2 separate regions of the Homo sapiens genome follow, and region 1 is linked to region 2. Evidence: fine-mapped expression QTL. A gene starts in region 2. The other region holds a variant in brackets. All regions are shown on one strand. Distances are from middle to middle. Region 1 has its middle 13 kb from the start of TMEM200B. Region 2 holds the start of SRSF4 (serine and arginine rich splicing factor 4).

Evidence for each region. PIP is the estimated chance that this variant, and not a neighbour inherited with it, causes the effect.
Region 1: its variant is the best candidate, but not a certain one, in a credible set for the expression of SRSF4 in whole blood (INTERVAL, PIP 0.55).

The regions. Positions count from the first base shown.
Region 1 is chr1:29,130,113-29,142,751 of GRCh38, forward strand. No RefSeq gene overlaps it. Among named protein-coding and RNA genes, the nearest start is that of TMEM200B, 13 kb to the left of the region's middle. The variant G/C (reference allele first, on the strand shown) is at 5,231.
Region 2 is chr1:29,176,519-29,189,157 of GRCh38, forward strand. It overlaps SRSF4 (serine and arginine rich splicing factor 4), which reads right to left and starts at 5,382. Exons shown (of 6, transcript NM_005626.5): 1 at 5,128-5,382. The coding sequence starts at 5,234. It also overlaps a transcript of MECR not described here. RefSeq lists enhancers at 1,416-1,916, 5,435-6,072, 5,501-5,730, 6,073-6,710, 10,095-10,740 and 1 more and silencers at 4,981-5,170, 5,221-5,430.

The sequences.
Region 1 (12,639 bases), 46 kb before region 2:
CAGATGCCTCAGGGGTTGGGGTGAAGACTCATCCACCAAAAGTGGAAGAAGCCACAGCTGACTGCTTCAGGAGGCATGCCCCCATAACCTCAGGCAGACGCTTCACTTCTCTGGCCTGTTTCTGCCTCAAACTGTGTCCGGAATTGGTGGGTTCTTGGTCTCACTGACTTCAAGAATGAAGCCGTGGACCCTCGTGGTGAGTGTTACAGTTCTTAAAGGCGGCGTGTCCGGAGTTTTTTCCTTCTGATGTTCGGATGTGTTCGGAGTTTCTTCCTTCTGGTGGGGTTCGTGGTCTTCCCGGCTCAGGAGTGAAGCTGCAAACCTTCGTGGTGAGTGTTACAGCTCTTAAGGCGGCGCGTCTAGAGTTGTTCGCTCCTCCTGGTGGGTTGGTGGTCTCGCTGGCTTTAGGAGTGAAGCTGCAGACCTTCCCCGTGAGTGTTACAGCTCATAAAGGCAGTGTGGACCCAAAGAGTGAGCAGCAGCAAGATTTACTGCAAAGAGCAAAAGAACAAATTTTCCACAATATGTATGGAGACCCCACAGGATTGCTATGGAGACCCCAGAGGATTGCCACTGCTGGCTCAGGCAGCCTGCTTTTATCCTCTTATCTGGCCCCACCCACATCCTGCTGATTGGTCCATTTTACAGAGTGCCCAGCAGTCTGTTTTGACAGGGCGCTGATTGGTGCGTTTACAATCCCTGAGCTAGACACAAAGGTTCTCCACGTCCCCACCAGATTAGCTAGATGCAGAGTGTGGACACAAAGGTTCTCCAAGTTCCCACTAGAGTAGCTAGATACAGAGTGTCCATTGGTGCATTCACAAACCCTGAGCTAGACACAGGGTGCTGATTGGTGTGTTTACAAACCTTGAGCTAGATACAGAGTGCCGATTGGTGTATTTACAATCCCTTAGCTAGACATAAAGGTTCTCCAAGTCCCCACCAGACTCAGGAGCCCAGCTGGCTTCACCCAGTGGATCCCACACCGGGGCCACAGGTTGAGCTGCCTGCCAGTCCCGTGCCCTGTGCCCGCACTCCTCAGCCCTTGGGTGGTCAATGGGACTGGGCGCCGTGGAGCAGGGGGCGGCGCTCGTCGGGGAGGCTAGGGCCGCACAGGAGCCCACAGAGGGAGGGGGGATGCTCAGGCATGGCGGGCTGCAGGTCCCGAGCCCTGCCCGGAGGGAAGGCAGCTAAGGCCCGGCGAGAAATTGAGCACAGCAGCTGCTGGCCCAGGTGCTAAGCCCCTCACTGCCCAGAGCCAGCGGGGCCTGCCGAGCTCACGCCCACCCGGAACTCGCGCTGGCCGGCAAGCACCGCGCGCAGCCCGGGTTCCCGCCCGCGCCTCTCCCTCCACACCTCCCCGCAAGCTGAGGGAGCCGGCTCCGGCCTTGGCCAGCCCAGAAAGGGGCTCCCACAGTGCAGCGGCGGGCTGAAGGGCTCCTCAAGTGCCGCCAAAGTGGGAGCCCAGGCAGAGGAGGCGCCCAGAGCGAGCGAGGGCTGTGAGGACTGCCAGCATGCTGTCACCTCTCAAGACTACCTGCCAATTACCCATCTCAGAGGGTCGTCAGAGATCGCTGAGCCCTGCCAGAGGTGCCGGATAAACCTTAGCTGCCTTTATTGTTATTGTTATTATTTCTGCTTCTATTAACTGAGCTCTGATGTTCTACCTCATATCTGTGGCCTTTTTCAAATTCTTTTTTTTTTTTTTTAAGACAGGGTCTTGCTCTGTCACCCAGGCTGGAGTGCAGTGGTGCAATCACAGCTCACTGCTGCCTCAACCTCCTGGGCTCAAGCGATTCTCTGACATCAGTCAGAGTAGCTAAGACCTCAGCCATGTACCACCACACCCAGCTAACTTTTGTATTTTTTTCTAGAGACAGGATCTCACCATGTTGCCCAAACTCCTGGCCTCCAGCGATCCTCCCACCTCAGTCTCCCAGAGTGTTGGAATTACAGATGTGAGCCACCGCTCCCAGCTTTTTCAAATTATTGAATGTTCCAGTGGACTCAGCCTGGATCAGACATCTATCTCCAGTCCAATCAGCTAAGGACTAGAGGGAGGGAGAGAACAGGGTCAGGAAGCCTGGACAGGCTGGACACGTGGATTCTCTCAGAAGCCTGGGAGGTGGTGATGGGGGTCCCTGCAAGTGACTGGCAGCCTAGGGAGTGCGCAGGCTGGACCTTGGGAGTTGGGTGATCCAAGGGCTTGAAGTAGGGCTGCTGGCTGGAAGTGGGACTGTGGGCACTCACCTGCCACCCGTGTGTCCAGCAGAAGAGTGAGGCTGGAGGGTCCTATGAAGATCTGCTTCTCACTTCTCCCTTTGGGAGGGCTTATAGGTCACAGGTCACAGCAAGGCACATGGGGTAGGAGAAGCCTCCATTGAGGAAATTACATATATGCCCTCCCCCGCACCACCGCTGCCACTGTAAATTAAGAAAAAAGCACTGTTGTGTTGGAAGGTGTGCCTTAGAGGGGGAGCAGGGCAACAGCCAGCCCTGGCTGACACCAAGAAATGTGTGTTTGGCTGGGCATGGTGGCTCACACCTGTACTCCCAGCACTTTGGAAGGCTGAGGCGGGTAGATAGTTTGAGGCCACACGTTCAAGACCAGCGTGGGCAACATAGCAAAGCCCTGTCTCTGAAACATAAAGAAAGAAAATGAAAGAAAAAGAAAGAAAGGGAGGGAGGGAGGGAGGGAGGGGCCGGGCCCAGTGGCTCATGGCTGTAATCCCAACACTTCGAGAGGCCAAGGCGGGTGGATCACCTGAGGTCAGGAGTTTGAGACTAGCCTGGCCAACATGGTGAAACCCTGTCTCTACTAAAAATTAAAAAAAAAATTAGCCGGGCATGATGGCGCATGCCTGTAGTGCCAGCTACTCGGGAGGCTGAGGCAGGAGAATTGCCAGAACCGGAAAGCAGAGGTTGCAGTAAGCCAAGATCGTGCCAGTGCACTCCAGCCTGGGCAACAGAGGGACTCCGTCTCAAAAAAAAAAAAAAAAAAAGAAAAGAAAAAGAAAAGAAAGAAAAGAAAAAAAAAAGTAAAGAAAGAAAGGAGGGAGGGAGGAAGGGAAGGAAGAAAGGAAGGAGAAAGAAAGAAGAAAAGAAAGAAAAGGAAGGAAGGAAGAAAGAAAGAGAAAGGCCGGGCGCAGTGGCTTATGCCTGTAATCCCAGCACTTTGGGAGGCCGAGGCGGTTGGATCACGAGGTCAGGAGTTCGAGACCAGCCTGGGCAACATGGTGAAACCCCGTCTCTACTAAAATACAAAAAATTAGCCGGGCGTGGTGGCGGGTGCCTGTAGTCCCAGCTACTCGGGAGGCTGAGGCAGAAGAATCGCTTGAACCCAGGAGGCGGAGGTTGCAGTGAGCCGAGATTGTGCCACTGCACTCCAGCCTGGGTGACAGAGCAAGACTCTGTCTCAAAAAAAAAAAAAGAAAAAGAAAAAAAAAAGAAAGAGAAAGGAGAGGAGAAGGAAAGAAGAAAGGAAGGAAGGAAGGAAGGAAAAAAGGAAGGAGAAAGAAAAAGGGAAAGAAAGAAGAAAGAGAAGAGGAGGAAGAAGGGAGGGAGGGAGGGAGGGAAACTGCGTGCACCGTGCAACACTGTGATTGGAGTGACTTGTTACTCCAGTGTAACCCACTGCCAACAGCCTGGTACTCGAGGCCGTAGTAAGCTCTTGTTAAATAGTTGGAAATGGGATGATTGCCAGTTACAGAACAATGGGCCTGGCTCATGCTGCCAGAGTAGTTTGAGAGCGGGTTCTTGCTAGAGCAAGAGAGAGGGGAGTTAGTCTTCGCTTGCAGCTGGAGCAGTAGCTGTCCCGAGTGGGCAGGGAGGCCCTGGCCCTCTCCTTCCTGTTGCTCTGCCCTCCCTCGGGTGTGGCACTCTCCCTGTTTGGTGGTTGAAGACACTTGCTGTTCCCTCTCCCGAGTCTGCAGACCATTGCAAGGCACCGAATGCACACCCAGAACGCTCATCCAGCACGCCCTTTTTCTCAAGTAGGGTGCGTGGCCATGTGGGAGACAACTCGGAGTCTTTGCCACAGACACCACGGGGACACGGCTCTTCCATTTGGTGACAAATCGCACTGCTGGTGAGATACTGAGCTGCGCGTCGCTGGGAAGGAAAGCAGAGGCTGGACCTCTGGGATTCCCGGTGAGAATCCTGCAGGGCAGGCCCCAGGTGGAGGGGGCGACCCCGGTCTCCAGGGCCGGGGGAGGCAGCGAGGCCCAAGGACAGGCGGCGGAGGCGGGAGGCGGCGAATGGGCTCCTCCCGAGGCCCGGACCAACCCCTGGCCGTGAGGCCGCGCCCCGCCGCGTTCAGCGAAGGGAAGCAGGCACCCCGCCCGGCTCTCCGCTGCCTCCACACTCGGGGACCCTGGGCGCTCACGTGTTCCCCTCTGGGCCTCAGGATTCAAGGATGCGCCCTCTTGCAAACAGTCCGTGGCCTGCGACAGAAAGAAAACCCCTGGGAGCGGTCGGGGTGGGGACCCACAAAACGCTGTGGCTAAACCGCATGGCGCCAAGCCCGATCGGAGCGTGGCGTGGGAATCGAGTCAAATTTACCCTGCTAGGTGCGGCTCCAACAAGGTCCCGGGTACTCCTCTAACGCCCAGTGAGGGCAGCACTGCCTTTGTCCCTGCCCCACGGACAGGACACGGAGGCTCCGACATACAAAAGGACTTAACCCGAGGGGAAATGTTAGAGCCGGGCTCCAACCCAGGACTTCCTGAGTCTAAGCCCAATCTGGCCCTAGACGAGCTGCCACGGTGGGCTGCACCCTCCACGGCAGGAGCTTGCCTGGCCTTGCTTCTTAGGTGAGTGTCCAGCCCAGGCCTTTAGAAGTTTGCTTCTTTATCAGGTCACATGTTTTTGGACATTTGTGATCACTGCTTTGCCATTGCAAAGGGGGACAAGAGGCCCAGGGAGCCCCCTCATTTACCAGCCCCTTCCTGGGAGGCTCAGAAAGCAGCCAGCTGCCCCCACATGCACGGTGGCCTGTGCATCAGTGTAGCTTGGCGGGTCATTTTACAGAGGAGGCGACCAAGGAGGTGGCAGGCTGCAGTCGGGGTCCCCAAGGTGATACCTCCATCTCCAGTGTCAAGGCTCTGAGGAGGGAGCTGGGGACCTCAGGAGGCAGTGGCAGTGGAGGAGCTGGTGTGGATGAACCTGAAAGGGGCAGGAAAGGCACTTGGGCAGCCTGGAGCAGGCAGGAGTTGTCACCCGCTCTCTCTAA[G/C]CCAGCCCTGCACAAAGCCACTGGCCTTACCTCCTGCAGGTGAAGCAGGTACAGAGCTACCTTCTGCTTCCAGCCTCGGGGGTGAAATGACCCCCTGCTAAAGTCACACAGAGTATGGGGCAGCATCAGGACTACAGGCCAAATCATCTGACTCCAGAGCCCTCTCTACACAGAGCTGGGAGGTAAAGGTATGAATTATTCCCATTTTACAGGTGAGGAAGCAATGGCCCAGAGAGTTTAAGTAGCTTGTTCAAGGTCACACAGCAAGAAAATAGAGACAGCCATACCACTCCTAGAATCTCCAGTGTCCTCACCTGCACTCAACTCAATGTGTGAAACTCCCGACTCACGCCTGGCGTGTGCTCGGTGCACAGTCCATGTTAGATCCTTTGTTTGGTCTTCTACAGATATTTTGAAAGACATTTTATGTCTGTAATATACAGTCAGGAGAGACAGCCAAAAGGATGTGGAGAAAATGTCCTCAGATGGTTGGAGGTCTTGAAGGTTTTCTTCCCAGGGACGCCAGCACCTCTGATCACTGAGGCGAAACCCCCTGCCTGAAGTGCTTGTTCAACATGCTTCTGCAACATCACTTGGTCCTCGAAAATTTCTGGTTTGGGAGAACTGCCAACGATGCCCCTAGAGACCTTTCAAACCTCTTTGCTAATTCCTCTTGCCAAGAGATGCTTGAGAGGAAAAATTAACATGAATAAAAGATCATTGAAAGAATCTACAGGCCGGGCGCGGTGGCTGACGCCTGTAATCCCAACACTTTGGGAGGCCAAGGCAGGTGAATCACCTGAGGTCAGATGTTCAAGACCAGCCTGACCAACATGGTAAAACCCCATCTCTACTAAAAAAAAAAAAAAAAAAAAAAATTAGCTGGGCGTGGTGGCGGGCGCCTGTAATCCTAGCTACTTTGGAGGCTGAGGCAGGAGAATCACCTGAACCCAGGAGGCAGAGGTTGCAGTGAGCCGAGATCACACCACTGCACTCCAGCCTGGGCAACAAGAGCGAAATTCCATCTAAAAAAAAAAAAGAATCTACAGTCCAATTTGGTGGTGGCTAAGCGACAATGTTTTGTTGTCTACGTTGTAGTTGCTGGTGTATGTGCGGTTGGAAGTAAATTCAGGAGTAGGGAAAAGTAATTGCTGTGCGTGAACCCCGGTGGCTGTGGAGTGGCACCCTGGGGGATCCACCAGCCCGCCCTGGTGTCAGGCTTGGATGGTTTCCACTTTTCTTGCTGTTATAAATAACACCAGTTTAAACACCTTTGTACTTGGAGCACTTTTCTTTGAGTTGTCACCTCAGGATAGATGCCCAGGAGTGGGAGTTCTCATGCAGCTCCTGCCAGTGATTTCTGGCCGCCGCAGCAGTGTGGGAGTGGAGTTCACGGTCACAGCCTGGCTGTGCGCTGGGTTTCATAATAGATACCAGGTGTAACGCGATACCGCGGGGTTGTCCTAATTTGCATTTCCTTAGGACTATCCCAGAGTTCTTCATAGACTCTCTAAGAAACATCAGGGTTTCCTGGAAAGTGTGAATTAAGGACAAATATTCTATCTGATAAAAAAAAAAAAAAAGGGCCGGGCACGGTGGCTCACACCTGTAATCCAGCACTTTGGGAGGCCGAGGTGGGCTCAAGCGATCCTCCTGTCTCAGTCTCCTGTGTTGTTCTGACTACAGGAATGCACCACTGTACCCCACTTTGGAACCCTTTTTATTGTGAATATAATACACCTCCAGGAAATTACATAAAACTTGAATGTTCAGGGCCGGGCGTGGTGGCTCACGCCTGTAATCCCAGCACTTTGGGAGGCCGAGGCAGGCGGATCACGAGGTCAGGAGATCGAGACCACGGTGAAACCCCGTCTCTACTAAAAATACAAAAAATTAGCCGGGTGCGGTGGCGGGCGCCTGTAGTCCCAGCTACTCAGGAGGCTGAGGCAGGATAATGGCGTGAACCCGGGAAGCGGAGTTTGCAGTGAGCTGAGATCGCGCCACTGCACTCCAGCCTGGGTGACAGAGCGAGACTCCGTCTCAAAAAAAAAAAAAAAAAAAAAAAAAAACTTGAACGTTCAGCTGATATTTTTATTATTATTATTTTTTGAGATGGAGCCTTGCTTTGTTGCCCAGGCTGGAGTGCAGTGGCGCCATCTAGGCTCACTGCAACCTCTGCCTCCTGAGTTCAAGCAATTCTCCTGCCTCAGCCTCCCAAGTAGCTGGGATTACAGGTGCCCGCCACCATGCCCGGCTAATGTTTGTATTTTTAGTACAGATGGGGTTTGGCCATGTTGGCCAGGCTGGTCTCAAACTCAGACCTCAGGTGATCCGCCTGCCTGGTCTGGCTGATTAAACTATCATGAAGCAAATGCCTGGTATGAACCCCACCAGGCAAAGACTAGAACACTGCCAGCACCCCCAGAAAGCCCCCGCCATGTCCCTTTCCAAGTGCCACCTCTTCCCTCTATCCAGAAGTGTGTGCTATTCTGATTCTAATACCACAGTTTAGTTTTAAGAAACAGGGTCTTGGCCGAGCCTGTTGGCTCACGCCTGTAATCCCAGCACTTTGGGAGGCTGAGGCAGGTAGATGACTTGAGTTGAGGAGTTGGAGACCAGCCTGGGCAACATAGTGAAACCCCATCTCTACTAAAAATACAATTAGCCGGGCGTGGTGGCGGGCGCCTGTAGTCCCAGCTACTCAGGAGGCTAAAATGGGAGGATAGCCTGAACCCGGGAGGCAGAGATTGGAGTGAGGTGAGATCACACCTCTGCACTCCAGCCTGAGTGATAAAGAAAGACTGTCAAAAAAAAGGAAAAAACAAAAGAAAAAAAGGAAAGGAAAGGAAAAAGGAAAGAAAAGAAAAGAAGAAAAGAAAAAGTGAGACTGTGTCTTGCTTTGTTGCCCAGGCTGGTCTAGAACTCCTGGTCTCAAGTGATCCTCTAGCCTTGGCCTCCCAAAGCACTGAGATTACAGGTGTGAGCCACTGTGCCCGGCCCCTCATTTAGTTTTTTAAACAGCTGTCATATAGTTTTGCCTGTTTGAAATTTCTGTGTGTGGAGCTATGCTTGTGTCTGGCTTCTTGTTTGTGAAATTCACCCATGTTCCTTCATGTACCTGAAGTTTGTTCATTTCCATTGCTATAATACATAGCACTTTGTTATATAAATACACCACAATTGTCCTTTTTTTTTTTTTTTTTTTTTTTTGAGACAGAGTCTCGCTCTGTTGCCCAGGCTGGAGTGCAGTGGTGTGATCTTGGCTCACTGCAACCTCCGCCTCCTGGGTTCCTGCCATTCTCCTGCCTCAGCCTCCCTAGTAGCTGGGACTACAGGTGCCTGCCACCACACCCGGCTAATTTTGTATTTTTAGTAGAGACGGGGTTTCACTGTGTTAGCCAAGATGGTCTCGATCTCCTGACCTCAGGCAATCCACCCGCCTCAGCCTCCCAAAGTGCTGGGATTACAGGCGTGAGCCACCGTGCCCAGCCTTTATTTTTTTTGAGATGGAGTTTCAATCTTCTTGCCCAGACTGGAGTGCAATGGCACGATCTTGGCTCACCGCAACTTCCGCCTCCCGGATTCGAGCGATTCTCCTGTCTCAACCTCCTGAGTAGCTGGGATTACAGGCATGCACCACCACGCCCGGCTAATTTTTGTATTTTTTAGGAGAGACAGGATTTCTCCATGTTGGCCAGGCTGGTCTCGAACTCCTGACCTCAGGTGATCCACCCGCTTCGGCCTCCCAAAGTGCTGGGATTATAGGCGTGAGGCACTGCACCCAGCCCACAATTGTCCATTCTACTGTTGAAAAGACTTACAGGTTGTTTTTGGTTTTGGTGGTCAGGATATGTTGTGCTCGAGTCATTTGTGCCCAACCTGGCCTACACACTTCTAGTAGGTCTATACCAAGAGGTGCAAGTGCTGGGTTTGCTTCTCTTTCACTCCTCTTATGTGTGCAATTTTTCCTTTTTTTTTTTTTTTGAGACAAGGTTTCCTTCTGTCACCCAGGCTGGAGTATACTGGCGTGATCTCGGCTTACTGCAGCTTCAATCTCCTGGGCTCAAGAGATCCTCCCACCTCCACATCCTGAGTAGCTGGAATTACAGGTGGGTGTTACCAAGCCCGGCTAATTTTTGTATTTTTTATAGAAATGGGGCCTCACCATGTTGCCCAGGCTGGTCTCAAACACGTGGGCTCAAGCAATCAGCCTGCCTCAACTTCCCAAAGTGCTGTGATTACAGGTGTGAGTGACAGAGCCCAGCCTCTTTGGGATTTTCTACAAAGATGATCATGTTTTCCATAAACAAAGACAATTTTATTTATTCCTTTCCAATGTGTATACCTGCTTTCCCTTTTCTTGTTTTATTGCACTAGCTAGGACTTCCACTATGATGTTGAATAGGAGGATAAGAAATGACAACCCTTGCCTTGTTCCTACCTTAGGAGGAAATTATCTGTTTTTTTTTTCTGAGACAGAGTCTCGCTTTGTCGCCCAGGCTGGAGTGCAGTGGCGCAATCTTGGTTTGCTGCAACGTCTGCCTCCAGGGTTCAAGCATTTCTCCTGCTTCAGCCTCCCAAGTAGCTGGGACTACAGGCACGTGCCACCACACCCGGCTAATTTTTGTATTTTTAGTAGAGATGGGGTTTCACTATGCTGGCCAAGCTGGTCTCAAACTCCTGACCTCTTGATCTGCCTGCCTTGGCCTCCCAAAGTGCTGGGATTACAGGCATGAGCCACCACACGCAGCAACAGATGAAGTATTTTATAAATGTCAATCATCTAGCTGGTTGCCAGGAGAGGTGGCTCACGCCTGTAATCCCAGCACTTTGGGAAGCCAAGGCAGGCAGATCACTTGAGGTCAGGAGCTCGAGACCATGCTGGCCAACATGGTGAAACCCTATCTCTAAGAAAAATACAAAAATTGGGCCGGGTGTGGTGGCTCACGCCTGTAATCCCAGCACTTTGGGAGGCCGAGGTGGGCGGATCATGAGATCAGGAGATCGAGACCATCCTGGCTAACACGGTGAAACCCCGTCTCTACTAAAAATACAAAAAATTAGCCGGGTGTGGTGGCGGGCACCTGTAACCCCAGCTACTCGGGAGGCTGAGGCAGGAGAATGGCGTGAACCTGGGAGGCAGAGTTTGCAGTGAGCGAGATCGCGCCACTGCACTCCAGCCTGGGCGACAGAGCAAGACTCTGTCTCAAAAAAATGAAAACAAAAACAAACAAACAAAAAAACCCAAAAATTAGCTGGGGTGGTGGCGGGTGCCTGTAGTCCCAGCTACTTGGGAGGCTGAGGCTGGAGAATCGTTTGAACCAGGAGTTGGAGGTTGAAGTGAGCTGAGATCACGCTACTGAACTTCAGCCTGGGCGACAGAGTGAGACTCTGTCTCCAAAAAAAAAAAAAAAAAAGATTCTAGTTGGTTTACGGCACTGTTCAGTTCAACTATGTCCTTACTAATTTTCTGCCTGCACCAGTGAATGTCTTTCTTCTTGCTAGTCTGTTTTTGCCTCACACATTTGATGCTTTGCTGTAGGCACATAAGCTAATTGAAGATTTTCGTATCTTTTTTTTTTTCCGAGACTGAGTCTCACTGTGTCACCCAAGCTGGAGTGTGGTGGCGTGATCTGGGCTCACTGCAACTTCTGCCTCCTGGGTCCAAGTGATTCTCATGCCTCAGCCTCCCAAATAGCTGGGATTACAGGCCTGTGCCACCACATTTGGCTAATTTTTGTGTTTTTAGTAGAGACGGGGTTTCACCATGTTGGTCAGGCTGGTCTTGAACTCCTGACCTCAGGTGATCCACCCACCTCGGCCTCCCAAAGTGCTGGGATTATAGGTGTGAGCCACTGGGCCTGGCGATTTTTCTATCTTCTTAGAGAACTGACCCCTCTACCATTATGTAATGCCACTCTATTCCTGGCAATTTTCCTTCCTCTGAATTGGCTTTGTCTGAAATATAGCTACTCCAAGTTTCTTTTTTTTTTTTTTTTTTTTGAGACGGAGTCTTGCTCTGTCGCCCAGGCTGGAGTGCAGTGGCATGATCTCGGCTCATTGCAACCTCTGCCTTCCGGGTTCATGCCATTCTCCTGCCTCAGCCTCCCGAGTAGCTGGGACTACAGGCGACCACTACCCTGCCTAGCTACTTTTTTGTATTTTTAGTAGAGACGGGGTTTCACTGTGTTAGCCAGGATGGCCTCGATCTCCTGACCTCGTGATCCACCTGCCTTGGCCTCCCAAAGTGCTGGCATTACAGGCATGAGCCACTGTGCCCGGCTCTTTTTTTTTCTTTTTTCTCAAGACGAGTCTTTCTGTCACCCTGACTGGAGTGCAGTGGCGCTATCTCGGCTCACTGCAACCCCCACCCCCCAGGTTCAAGCAATTCTCCTGCCTCAGCCTCAAGAGTAGCTGTGATTACAGGTGCCTACCACCACACCAGGCTAATTTTTGTATTTTTAGTAGAGATGGGGTTTCACTATGTTGGCCAGGCTGGTCTTGAACTCCTGACCTGGTGATCTGTCCGCCTCAGCCTCCCAAAGTGCTGGGATTACAGGCGTGAGTCACCGCGCCCCAGGCCCTTCCAAGTTTCTTTTGATTATCTTCATGGTATGTCTTTCTCTAGCCCCTTACTTTCGGTCCATGTCTGTGTACAAGTGGGTTTTTACTTTTTAAAAGTAAAACCTTCAGGCCACCATGCCCAGCTAATTTTTTGTGTTTCTAGTAGAGACGGGGTTTCACCGTGTTAGCCAGGATGGTCTTGATCTCCTGACCTCATGATCTGCCCATCTCAGCCTCCCAAAGTGTTGGGATTACAGGTTTGAGCCACCACGCCACGCCGGGTCTTGCTTATCAAAATCTACTCTAGCCAGGCACGGTGGCCCACAGCAGTAATCCCAGCGCTTTGGGAGGCCGAGGCAGGCGGATTAGCTGAGGTCAGGGTTCGAGACCAGCCTGACCAACCTGGTGAAACCCCGTCTCTACTAAAAATACAAAAAAATTAGCTGGGCATGTTGGCAGGCCTCTGTAATCCCAGCTACTTGGGAGGCTGAGGCAAGAGAATTGCTTGAATCCAGGAGGCGGAGGTTGCAGTGAGCCGAGATCCTGCCACTGCACTGCAGGCTGGGAGCGACAGAGCAAGGCTCCAACTCATAAAAACAAACAAACAAACAAAAAACAAACCCTACTCTGACAGTCTTTTATTTAGGCCATTGACATTTAGCCATGAAAGAAATAGCCTAATATTTACATTTGTTACTGTTTTCATTGTTCTTTGTTCCTCTTTTTGTCTTGCATTTTGGGGGCCAGGTGGATAATTATGGGGAGAAGGGTATGTGTAGATTTTGAGCACCCAAAAGGGTAGATTATAGTGGACTTTTGTATTTCTCTGGCTGCTTCCTATTTTT
Region 2 (12,639 bases):
ACAGCTCATCTAACCAGAAACCAGCAACCTGGAACATTAAACTAACTATATACTTCCTAATCTGTCAAGAATTCAGGAGTCAAAAGAGAAAAATCCCTGTGTAGGTGCTGGGGTTGGCAGTAATTCTTCTCAGTATCTAAGGCTTAATAATGCCCTCCAGTGAGCAGTGACATACACAACAACGACCTGCCTCACTCGAAGAGTCTTGAACTCCACATTAAAAAAATTATGGTGCATTAAACAAGGGCGAAAACAAAAATTTTCTGGTAATAATTAGATAGCATGACTAAACAGACCACAACATCCCCTGAAAATTCAGGCTATTCATGATTTCACTGTTCCATGAAACGCAGGTTCTGAAGTTTAAATCCAAGTTTCCCTTGAGAGTTTTAATTCATGACTTGAACTAAAAAATAAAACTATAAATTTCAATGATCTGGGGGTTTATCCTTCTAGCTACTAGACAGGCAAAATAATCTTAATATGTGGTAAGTTTTACTCATTAACTAAAATATGGAAAAGCTAAGATATAAAGATCTGACTAAAACCACAAGATTTTATGACAAAAGGGCAACTAGTGTACTCAAAATTCTTTCACACTTTACATGAAATGGCTTATTATAAAAAATAAAATCTATATACAATCAAAGCCAACAAAAGTTACCACAGAGCTGAAAGGGTATAAACAAGTGCTGCTAATATTGTTGCTTCCTTGACGTGCATCTAGGATTCCTGCCCCTCCCTTCCCTACAGTAACTCTTTTTGTTTTTTTTTTTTTTTGAGACGAAGTTTTGCTCTTGTTGCCCAGGCTGGAGTGCAATGGCAGGATCTCGGCTCACCGCAACCTATGCCTCTGAGGTTCAAGTGATTCTCTTGCCTCAGCCTCCCGAGTAGCCAGGATTACAGGCATGTGCCACGACGCCCGGCTAACTTTGTATTTTTAGTAGAGACAGGGGTTTCTCCATGTTGGTCAGGCTGGTCTTGAACTTATGACCTTGGGTGATCTGCCTGCCTTGGCCTCTCAAAGTGCCGGGGTTACAGGTGTGAGCCACCGTGCCAGGCCCTTGCAGTGACTCTTGAAGTTTATGGGGCGGGTAGAAAAGTAGGAGACCTTAATGGGAAATGGAATGGTCTATATGATCCTGGGAGATCTTCGTTGTATTTGTGGTCCCAAACCATCTTTCAAAAAGTTCTCTAGAACAGTGGCAATCTACATTAGCGATGCCTGGTGTAATAAAACGGTAGGCAATGAACTCTTGCTTACACACCTCTTCTCCAAACCCTCTCAGGGTCCATAGAATCCTTTCCTGAACACTAAATCTCCTTTGAAGAACTCATTTGTTTCCTTATTTGGTCATCTTCCTATTACACAAGATTTTTTTTTTTTTTTTTTTTTTTTGAGACAGAGTCTTGCTCTGTTGCCTAGGTTGGAGTGCAGTGATGCAATCTCTGCTCACTGCAACCTCCACCTCCCAGGTTCAAGCAATTCTCCTGCCTTAGCCTCTAGAGGAGCTGGGATTACAGGTGCCCACCACCACACCCAGCTAATCTTTGTATTTTTAGTAGAGATGGGGTTTCACCATGTTGGCCAGGCTGGTCTCAAACCCCTGACTTCAAGTGATCCACCTACCTCGGCCTCCCAAGGTGATGGGATTACAGGTGTGAGCCACCGTGACCGGTCTAGACAAGCATTTTATGCCTTAATTCTAAACTTAACTTACAACCCTTCAGCCTAACATATCTACTGATACATCTCACTTCTACAAATCTGAACTCCAGCAATTCTTCAAAGACCTATCTAAAGCATCCAAAATCTGTTTCTGAGTTTCAATTACTTTTTTTTTTGAGACAGAGTCTCGCTGTCGCCCAGGCTGGAGTGCAGTGGCACGATCTCGGCTCACTGCAAGCTCCACCTCCCAGGTTCACGCCATTCTCCTGCCTCAGCCTCTCGAGTAGCTGGGACTACAGGTGCCTGCCACCATGCCCGGCTACTTTTTTTTAATTTTTATTTTCATTTTTAGTAGAGACGGGGTTTCACCATCTTAACCAGGATGGTCTCGATCTCCTGACCTCGTCATCTGCCCGCCTCGGCCTCCCAAAGTGCTGGGATTACAGGCCACCGCGCCCGGCCTCTGAGTTTCAATTACTAATCACAATCTAGATATGTTCAAACATGCTTCCCAGTAGGGAGATCCACTGCCCTTCTGCTAGGGGACTATAAGCTTACATACGTAGCTAAGTTATGCTTTTTCTTTTGTACTCACTCCTTCCTTTCAGACTCTCCAGCGTTTTTGCCATACAGGCAATTTTTGCTTGAAATACATCTTTACCATTGGTCTTCTTCCCAGAAGTCGTTTTCCTCTGTAATGATTCCTCAATGATGCCAGGAGGTCATATTGTGTGCTGTTTGGTGACTGTCATACCTGTCTTTGAAACTCTAAAATGACTTCATTTCAACCTTGACTTTCAATGACATTTCATGCATATCATGGTTTGGCAGCATAACTGTAAGAATGAACAGTTCCTTAAAAAAACCACCCAGGTATTTAGGGTCCTGAAAGGCTCTTTCCTCTTATCGCTCCATCTTCCTTTTGGGTTGCTCACTTCTTCCTTCCAGAGCCTTTGAATTCCTACTCATTGATTTCGAATTTTTAGTGTAAAATCTAATAGTCGTTGTTTCTGGTTTATGTTGTTAAATTTCTAGATTCTTCATAAGGCTTGATCCATGCTAGATTGTTTATTATTTTTCATAATTGCTTCTTACTGGACCATGTCTTCAACACCAATTATGACATTAAAAAAATATTTTTTCCCTATTCATCAAAAAGCAAAAAAAGTCAGCATTGTACTTATTTTATTAGAGATGGGGGTCTTGCTGTTACCCAGACTGGAGTGCAGTGTCACAATCATAGCTCACTGTAGCCTTGAAATCCTAGGCTGAAGTGATCCTCCTGCCTCATCCTCTGAAGTAGCTAGGACTATAGGCGAGTGTCACCACGCGTGGCTAATTAAAAAAATTTTTTTCTTAGAGATGGGGTCAGGCTGGTCTCAAACTCCTGGCCTGAAGTAATCTTCACACTTCAGCTGGGATTGCAGGCACAAGTCACCATGCCTGAGCCCCAACTACGACATATACTATTCCCAGAAACCTAAATTTCTTCACTTCAAGCTCTAATCTATTCTTCAAAGCCATTTCAACACATCTTTTCAAGCAAATCATTCCAAGTTTTACTAGAGTTTAAAGCGAAAGCAAACATTTCTTAATTCAAAGTGCACATGTCATAATGCTTAATTTATTCAAGAGCAGAACTGTTTTCTGCCTCCTCCCCCAATTCATTTAGCACAGTGGTGGACATTTTGTTGATGGGTTATCAATACATTTGGTTGATGAATCAGTTTCCCATTAACAGTCTTGTCATTTCCTGCACACTATCACCTGAGTAACATTAGAAAAGACCTCACCAAACACGCTTTATGTTATCAAACACCAACAAGCAAAGATGTTTCCTCATCCCTCTGATTATAGCTGCCACTTACTGCCTAAGCCAAATGCTTTACATTTATTATCTCTAATCTTCCTTTTCCACATGAATGAACAACCAGGTTCAGAGAAGTAACTTGCCCATACGTAGTAAGTGGTGGAACCAGGATTTGACTTAGGCCTGGCTGGCTTCAAAATCCACACTTTGTCCACAAAAGTTAGTTATGCTGTCAATTTAGCTGGGCTCTGAAAAAAACTGGAGTTTCAACTTTCACATATATGGTATGTATACAATAACGTCTACCCGCCACTTCAATATATCCTTAAGAACTGAACGTTTTACTGTAGAAAAGGAGTAGTTTTTAAAGCCTTTTACTGTAAAAGAAATCAGTACTTTACTAAAGACGTCCTCAGAAAGAAAACGATTCTAATAATTAATTTGAAATGGCTTTTTAAACCCAAATCATCATTTGAGAATACGGTAGCTACCAGTTTTCTCATACGTGAAACATACTTAGGTAACTTTCAAAATGTTTCAGGTGTCAGTTACTAGTATAACCCTGGGGAGTAAACGGTAGCTATATTACAACTGTTGCAAAGTAGAGTTTCTTTTTTAAGCCAAGAGTTCTCTAACACCCAAGGTTTAGTGCCCTAAAATGTCACCCCAGTCCTTTTAATTTTATATCCATGCCTTCCAAGCCCTACCTAACATCTGGTTCCCAGTTTTCCCCGTTGAGTATTTTCTCCAGGCCTGATTCCTCAACAGTTTTCCCTAAAACCTGTAGCTCATGCTGGCACTATTTTTGCCGAAGTAGATTAAGAATACAAGTAATAGATCATACTCTGGGGGAGGCAGTAAGTTAACAATTTCGTCTCCGTCTGCGTTAACCAGACGCAGATACTAGCCAGGGTGGCCACTATTCTCCTAACAAATTCTACAACGGCCAAGCAATTTTTCGGTAAGTTGGAAAACGGAAACCACAGCGTGGAAACTCTGCACGGAGTCTTAAAGATAAGAAGTTAAGACTTTAATTTACTCTTGCAGAGGGAACGGTGAAGGCTTTCAGCACGGCAAGACGATACTTTCGAAACTGTCACTAGACTACTCAAACTGGAGTCTCCCGCCCAAAAAAGCGTGGCACACGGCTAAAAAGGGCCTCCCTCCAAGGCTCCAGTCCTCGGGGAAGACGGCGCTGTGACCGTCTGATCCATGAGACCGGGCAAGAGGTGAAAGGGAGCAGGAAATCCTGTTTATTTCCAGTAGTCCTCAGAGCGGGAAAGGTTGGTGTCTACCCAGAAACGAATAGGGCCCCAGTTCCGGGCCTAGGAAGGGAAAACCCAGGTCTCCCGGGCGCCCTGGAGCTGTGCCCCCCTGCCCGGAGCACCAGCCCCACTCGGGCTTTCCTTCTCCCCGTCCCACTCAGGGCCTCAGCACAGCTCCCATTATGCCTCCACCACCCCCACCCGCGCAGGCGCAGTGGGAACCGGGGCCTACCCGCGCCCCCGAGGCGCCGCCACTATGGCGGAGCCTGGCCAGGCCGGTAGCCGCTCCGCGCGGACCAGGCGTCCCTCTCCCGTCCCCGCGGCCTCCCCACCACCTATGGGGTCTGTCCCCGCCCGGCCGGACCCTCTTTCGCCCTCCTCACCCGTTCTTCAGATCCACCTCCAGGATCTTCCCGTAGCCCTTAAAGAAGCGCTCCACATCGCGCTCCCGGGCCTGGTAGCTCAGGCGGCCGATGTACACCCGCGGCATCCCGGCAACGGCAGTGATGGCTGGCCCCGGCCCCAGCCCCCCTTAGGCGGCGGCGGGCAAAGCGAGAGCACGGCGGCAGCGGCGGCGGCGGCAACGGGCGGGCGGCGGGACGGACGCAGCCGAACCCCGGCGACGTACGCGAGCACGCAGCTCGCGAGCGCGCGCTTCCACTTCCCCCGCCCTTCCCCGAGGCGGAAGGTAACCGGAGAGAGCGCGCGTTCGCTTCCCGCTCGGCCAGGACTGGGGGAGGAGCTTGCCCGGGGGCGCGCCGACGTGCGGCGGGGCAAGGTGATCGACAGGCGGCGCTGCGGCACGTCCTCGCGCGAGCTCGCCAAAGGGGTTCCTGCACCGCCTTCCGCAGCCAGCTGGCTTCGCCCCTCCCCCGGAAGTGTCCGCACCTCCTAGAGCCCAGCGAGCGAGCGTTTGTGCTTTTGTCCTTTGAACCGGGTGTGGTTTGGATTTCGGAGCTGGAGCTTTGGAATCAAACCTAGCTTCCAAACGATTGTGTACCCGTGACCTTGGGCTTGTTACGCGCGATGTCTCGGACCCTCCTTTATCTTTTCTGTAAAAGGGGGAGAGTAGTTCCTACCTTCCAGAGTTGTCTTGAGAATTATATGAGAATACGTACATAAAGCACTTAGTAGTTTTGTCATATCAAGTGCCCAATAAATGAGACCAGTATTATTTTTAAGAGGACACTGCTTAAATAGAAGCAGTGTGAGAAGCGGAGAAGGCTGGAGCTTTGGAGCTAGACTAGGCATGACGCCGAGTAAATTACTTGACCACAATCCAACCTATTTTTTTTTTTTTGAGACGAGTTTCGCTCGGTCGCCCAGGCTGGAGTGCAGTGGCGCGACCTCAGCTCACTGCAACCTCCGCCTCCCGGGTTCAAGCGATTCTCCTGCCTCAGCCTCCAGAGTAGCTGGGACTACAGGCGCCCGCCCCCACGCCCGGCTAATTTTTGTATTTTTAGGAGAGAGGAAGTTTCACCATATTGGCCAGGCAGGTCTCAAACTCCAGACCTCAGGTGATCCGCCCGCCTTGGCCTCCCAAAGTGCTGGGATTACAGGCGTGAGCCACTGCGCCTGGCCTATCCAGTCTATTTTCTAACCTGTAAAATTAGAATAATGTATACCCATCTCAAGGATTACACAGGTCACTAAATGGGGTAGTGTATGTGAAAGTACTTGGAACAGTGTCTGAAACATGGTAAGAGCTCAATAAATATTGGTTCCCTTCTCACTAACGCCATGTACCTAGAACCATAAAGGGTTTTGTTTCTTTGCTTGTTTTTGTTTTTTGAATATTTTGAAAGGATAACTCAAGGTTCAAATGATACACAGTGAAAAGTCTTCGCTGTCCACCAGCCACTTAGTTTCTCTTCCCAGAGGCAGTTTCTGAAATGTCCTTTAGGAGGTTAATTTACCCTTATAAAACAAATAGTAGGATACTATACATATGGTTCTACACAAAATATATTTTGAAAATCATTCCTTAAGAGTATAAAAGGACTAGTTTTATGGTTCATACCATTTTATACACAGTAATTTATTTAGCCAGTGCCCTGGTGAAGGACATTGAAATAAGTTCCAACCTTTTGTTATTACACTGCTGCAGTAACTTTGCATTTCTCTCTCTCTCTTTCTCTCTCTCTCTATATATATCATCTATTCCTAGAAATAGGATATTTGGGTCAGAGTTTTGATAAGTTATTGCTCAATTCCCCTTAAGTGGCTGTTTCCTCATATCCTCATCAACACCGTGTTATCAAACTTTTTGATCTTTGCCAATCTGAGAGGTGAAAAATGTTATCTCCAAGTGGTTTAATTTGCAAATATCATATTTTGCAGAGATATGAGTCTTTCTTCATATGTTTGAGATATATTTTCCTATTTCTGTCTGTGTATATCCTTTACCCATTTTTCTTATTCATAGGTGCTCACTATATATTAGGAAAATCAGCTCTTTGTCAAATGAGTTGCAAATATTTTTTCCATTTGTTGACTTTTGACTTTGCCAAGAGTGTTTTTTAGCCATGCAAAAACATTAGATATTTATGGGATCAATTTATCCATCCTTTATTTTTCTTTGATTCTGGATTTTATTTTTAAATTTTTATTTATTCTACTTTTTTTTTTTTTTTTTGAGACTGAGTCTCGCACTGTCGCCCAGGCTGCAGTGCAGCGGTGCGATCTCAGCTCACTGCAACCTACGCCTTCTGGGTTCAAGCGTTCTCCTTCCTCAGCCTCTAGAGTAGCTGGGATTACAGGCACCTGCCACCACGCCCGGCTAATTTTTTTGTATTTTAGTAGAGAAGGGGTTTCACTATGTTGGCCAGGCTGGTCTTGATCTCCTGACCTCGTGATCTGCCTGCCTCGGCCTCCCAGAGTGCTGGGACTACAGGCGTGAGCCACTGTACCCGGCTTTTTTTTTTTTTTTTTGAGATGGAGTCTTGGTCTGTTGCCCAAGATGGAGTGTAGTGGCACTATCTTGGCTCACTGCAGTCTCTGCCTCCAGGTTCAAGCAATTCTCCTGCCTCAGCCTCCCAAGTAGCTGGGATTACAGGCATGTGCCACCACGCCTGGCTAATTTTTTTGTATCTTTAATAGAGACTGGGTTTCACCATGTTGGCCAGGCTGGTCTCAAACTCCTGACCTCAGGTGAGGTGGCGTGAGCCACCGCGCCCGGCAAGAAATCTATTTTGAAAGTAATAATTAGTGGCTGGGTGCGGTGGTTCACGCCTGTAATCCCAGCGCTTTGGGAGGTTGAGGCAGGAGGATCATCTGAGGTTAGGGATTCAAGACCAGCCTGGTCAACATGGGGAAACCCCATCTCTACTAAAAATACAAAAAATTAGCCAGGTGTGATTGTGTGGGCCTGTAGTTCAGCTATTCAAAAGGCTGAGGCAGGAGAATTGCTTGAACCCAGGTGGCAGAGGTTGCAGTGAGCCGAGATCGTGCCATCACACTCCAGCCTGGGTGACAAGAGCAAAACTCCATCTCAAAAACAGGCCACAGCGCCCAGCCTATTCTACTTTTTTAGAGATGGAGTCTCGTTGTTTTCCTGCCTGGTCTTAAACTACTGGGCTCAGGCCAGGCACAGTGGCTCACACCTGTAATCCCAGCACTTTGGGAGGCCGAGGTGGGTGGATCACCTGAGGCCAGGAGTTCGAGACCAGTCTGGCCAACATAGTGAAACCCTGTCTCTATTAAAAATACAAAAAATTAGCCAGACATGGTGGCAGGCGCCTATAATCCCAGCTACTCGGGAGGCTGAGGCAGGAGAATAGCTTGAACCCAGGAGGCGGAGGCTGCAGTGAGCCAAGATTGTGCCATTGCACTCCAGCCTGGGCAACAAGAGCGAAACTTTGTCTCAAAAAAGAAACAAACAAACAACTGGGCTCAAGCAATCCTCCCTTCTGGACCTCCCAGTGTTGAGATTACAGGCATGAGCCACTGCACCCAACCTCCTATTTATTATTTTATTTTTTAAATTTAATTCAATTTTATTTTTTGAGACAGAGTTTTGCTCTGTCACCCAGGCTGGAATACAGTGGCATGATCTTGGCTCACTGCAACCTGTGCCTCCTGGGTTCACACGGTTCTCCTGCCTCAGCCTCCTGAGTAGCTGGGACTACAGGCCCGTGCCACCATGCCAAGCTAATTTATGTATATATATTTTAGAGACAGAGTTTAACTCGTTGCCCAGGCTGGAGTGCAATGGCACGATCCCCGCTCACTGCAACCTCTGCCTCCCGGTTTCAAGTGATTCTCCTGCCTCAGCCTCCTGAGTAGCTGGGATTACAGGCATGTGCCACCACGCCCAGCTAATTTTGTATTTTTAGTAGAGATGGGGTTTCTCCACGTTGGTCAGGCTGGTCTTGAACTTCCAACTCCAGGTGATTCACCCGCCTGGGCCTCCCAAAGGGCTGGGATTACAGGTGTGAGCCACCTTGCCCGGCCATAATCTTTAATTCATTTGGAATTCAGTAAGTGTGAGGAACATAACATTCTTAAGAACTAGCAATCTGGCCTGGGCAACATGGCAAAAACCCGTCTCTGCAGAAAAAACAACAAAAAAAATTAGCCAGGCATGGCGGTGCATGCCTGTAGTCCCAGCTACTTGGGAGGCTGAGATGGGGGGGATCTCCTGAGCCCAGGGAGGTTGAGGCTGCAGTGATCTGTGATCATGCCACTGTCCTCAAGCCTGGATGTCAGAGTGAGACCCCATCACATGCACACACACACACAAAAACAACAAAAAACCACGAAAACAAAAATCCTAGCACTAAGCTTGGTTGTTATATTAACCTATTGTACAGATGGGAAAGAGAGCCCTCCAGAGGGGAAATGCTTGTCCCTAAAACCTGCTCCTCCTTCCCCAATGCAAGTGGCACCACCATCAGCGAGGTGCCAAAGTTCAACCTTCAACCACTGCATTCAGTCTGTCCTTCTGATTATTCCTTCTAAATATTCACAGATTCATTCCTTCTTTCCATTCCTACTTCCTAAACTAGTTCAGGCCTCATCAGACTGTTCACAGTCAGGGCTTTGATATGCGCTACTTCCTCTGCCTGGAATACAGCTGGCTCCTTCTTATTCAGGCCTGAGGCCTTCCATGTCCACCTTATTTCAAGTGTTGTTTGTCATATTTCACAACACTTACTACACAGTCTGTAATTACCTGGTTTATTTATTTACTTGTGCATGGTCTTTCTCCACCACTGGAATGTAAGCTCGCTGGTCTCAGGGGCCATGTTTTTTGTTTCCTGCTCTATCCCTAGCCCCTAACAACAGTGCCTTTCACATAAAGAGCGTTTAAAATACTTATTGAATGAATACATAAATAATCTCTTACCTGGACTACTTCAATGGCCTCCTGATTCTGCCTTTTTCTCATGCCTCCCCATGAGACACAGACTCAGGGAAATTTGAATGCTCTTCCAGTTGACATGTCAAGAACAAAATCAAGGACTCGTGAGAAGAGTGGGACCTCCAAGGCCACCTGTGGAGCCAAAAGAATTGGGACTGTCTGCTGTAGTGACCAGATATGGTCAGGGGATCTGGCTTCTAGTGCCAGCTCTGCTGCCTGCTGTGTGATCTGGAACAACTCACTTCACATCTCTGGGAGGCTGCTGCTTCTGTAAAGTGGTGACATTAACATCTCAATGACATAGGAAATTTCTAAGAATCTCTTTTTTCTCTTTCATAAGGTGCCAATGTCTCCTTTCCACTTACCTTTCAGCTAGCCCTGCTGTCTTCCCAGGAATGTTCCTGCCTTCAGATGCAAGCAGATGTTGTGCCAGGACTGAGCCTTCTCTTCTCCACCATTTCCAGCTGCTGTGGCTTGGCCTAGTGCTTTACTCAGGGCATGGTGCCTGACAATAAGCATGGGGCTGGTGGGTGTTCTGAGAGTTTCCATGCACAAGTACAGCCTGGCACACACAGGTTAACGCAAGAGCTTTTCTCTTTTCTTTTTTGAGACCGAGTCTCACTCTGTTGCCCAGGCTAGAGTGCAGTGGTGAGATCTCGGCTTACTGCAACCTCCGCCTCCGGGTTCAAGCGATTCTCGTGCCTCAGCCTCCCGAGTAGCTGGGACTACAGGCATGAGCCACCATGCCTGGGTAATTTTTTTTGTATTTTTAGTAGAGACTGTGTTTCACTATGTTGGCTGGTCTCGAACTCCTGACCTCAGGTGATCTGCACACCTCAGCCTCCCCAAGTGCTGGGTTACGGGCGTGAGCCACCATGCCTGGCCGCAAGAGCTTTATTCTTCTCGGCCTCAGTCTTCCCCTGAGGAAAGTGTGCGTAATTATCTCATATCCCAAGAAAACACATTTATCAAATTTTTTTTCCTTTTTTTGTTGAGACAGAGTCTCACTCTGTCACCCAGGCTGGAGTGCAGTGGTGCGATCTCAGCTCACTGCAACCTCTGCTTCCTGGGTTCAAGCGATTCTCCTGCCTCAGCCTCCCAAGTAGCTGGAACTAAAGATGCACGCCACAGGCCAGGCGAGGTGGCTCACGCCTGTAATCCCAGCACTTTGGGAGGCCCAGGTGGGTGGATCATGAGGTCAGGAGATCGAGACCATCCTGGCTAACATGGTGAAACCCCATCTCTACTAAAAATACAAAAAAATTAGCCAGGCGTGGTGGTGGGCGCCTGTAGTCCCAGCTACTCGGGAGGTTGAGGCAGGAGAATGGCGTGAACCCAGGAGGCGGAGCTTGCAGTGAGCTGAGATTGTGCCACTGCACTCCAGCCTGGGCAACACAGCAAGACTCTGTCTCAAAAAAAAAAAAAAAAAAAAGACGCACACCACCATGCCTGGCTAATTTTTGTATTTTTAGTAGAGATGGGGTTTCACCATGTTGGCCAGGCTAGCCTCGAACTCCTGGAGAGACCAGATCTTGAGGGGCCTCAAGGATCATGGGAAGGATTTGGAGTTTACTTTTTTTTTTGAAATGGAGTCTCACTCTGTTGCCCAGGCTGGAATGCAGTGGTGCAATTTTGGCTCACTGCAACCTCCACCTCCTGGGTTCAAGCAATTCTCCTACCTCAGCATCCCAACGAGCTGGGATTACAGGTGCCTGCCACCACGCCCGGCTAATTTTGTATTTTTAGTACAAATTAATTTAGTAGAGACAGGATTTCTCCATGTTGCTCAGGCTGGTCTCGAACTCCTGACCTGAGGCTATCTGCCTGCCTTGGCCTCCCAAAGTGTTAGGATTAAAGGCATGAACCACTGCGCCTGGCCTCCATTTACCAATATTGTGGCAGCAACTATAGGTAGTCACTGGGTGGATGGTCCCAGAAGAGGACAGGGAGAGATGGCAGAGTCAGGAAGCTGCAGGGCTTCAGGTGCGCTCAAGCTTTTTTTTAGCAGGTAATGCCTATTTGTCTTTTTTTTTTGAGACAGTTTCACTCTTGTTGCCCAGGATGGAGTGCTATGGCGCGATCTTGGCTCACTACAACCTCCACCTCCCGGGTTCAAGCAATTCTCCTGCCTCAGCCTCCCGAGTAGCTGGGATTACAGGCGCCCGCTACCATACCCGGCTAATTTTTGCATTTTTAATAGAGATGGGGTTTCACCATGTTGGCCAGGCTGATCTTGAACTCCTGACCTCATGATCTGCCTGCCTCTGCCTCCCAGAGTGCTGGGATTACAGGCGTGAGCCACCACGCCCAGCCTATGTTAACTTTTTTGTATGAGACGGAGATTCACTCTTGTTGCCCAGGCTGGAGTGCAATGGTGCGACCTCGACTCACTGCAACCTCTACCTCCTGAGTTCAAGCAATTCTCCTGTCTCAGCCTCCTGAAAAACTGGAATTACAGGCGTGCACCACCACTCCCGGCTAATTTTTGTATTTTTAGTAGAGACGGGGTTTCACCATGTTGGCCAGGGTGGTC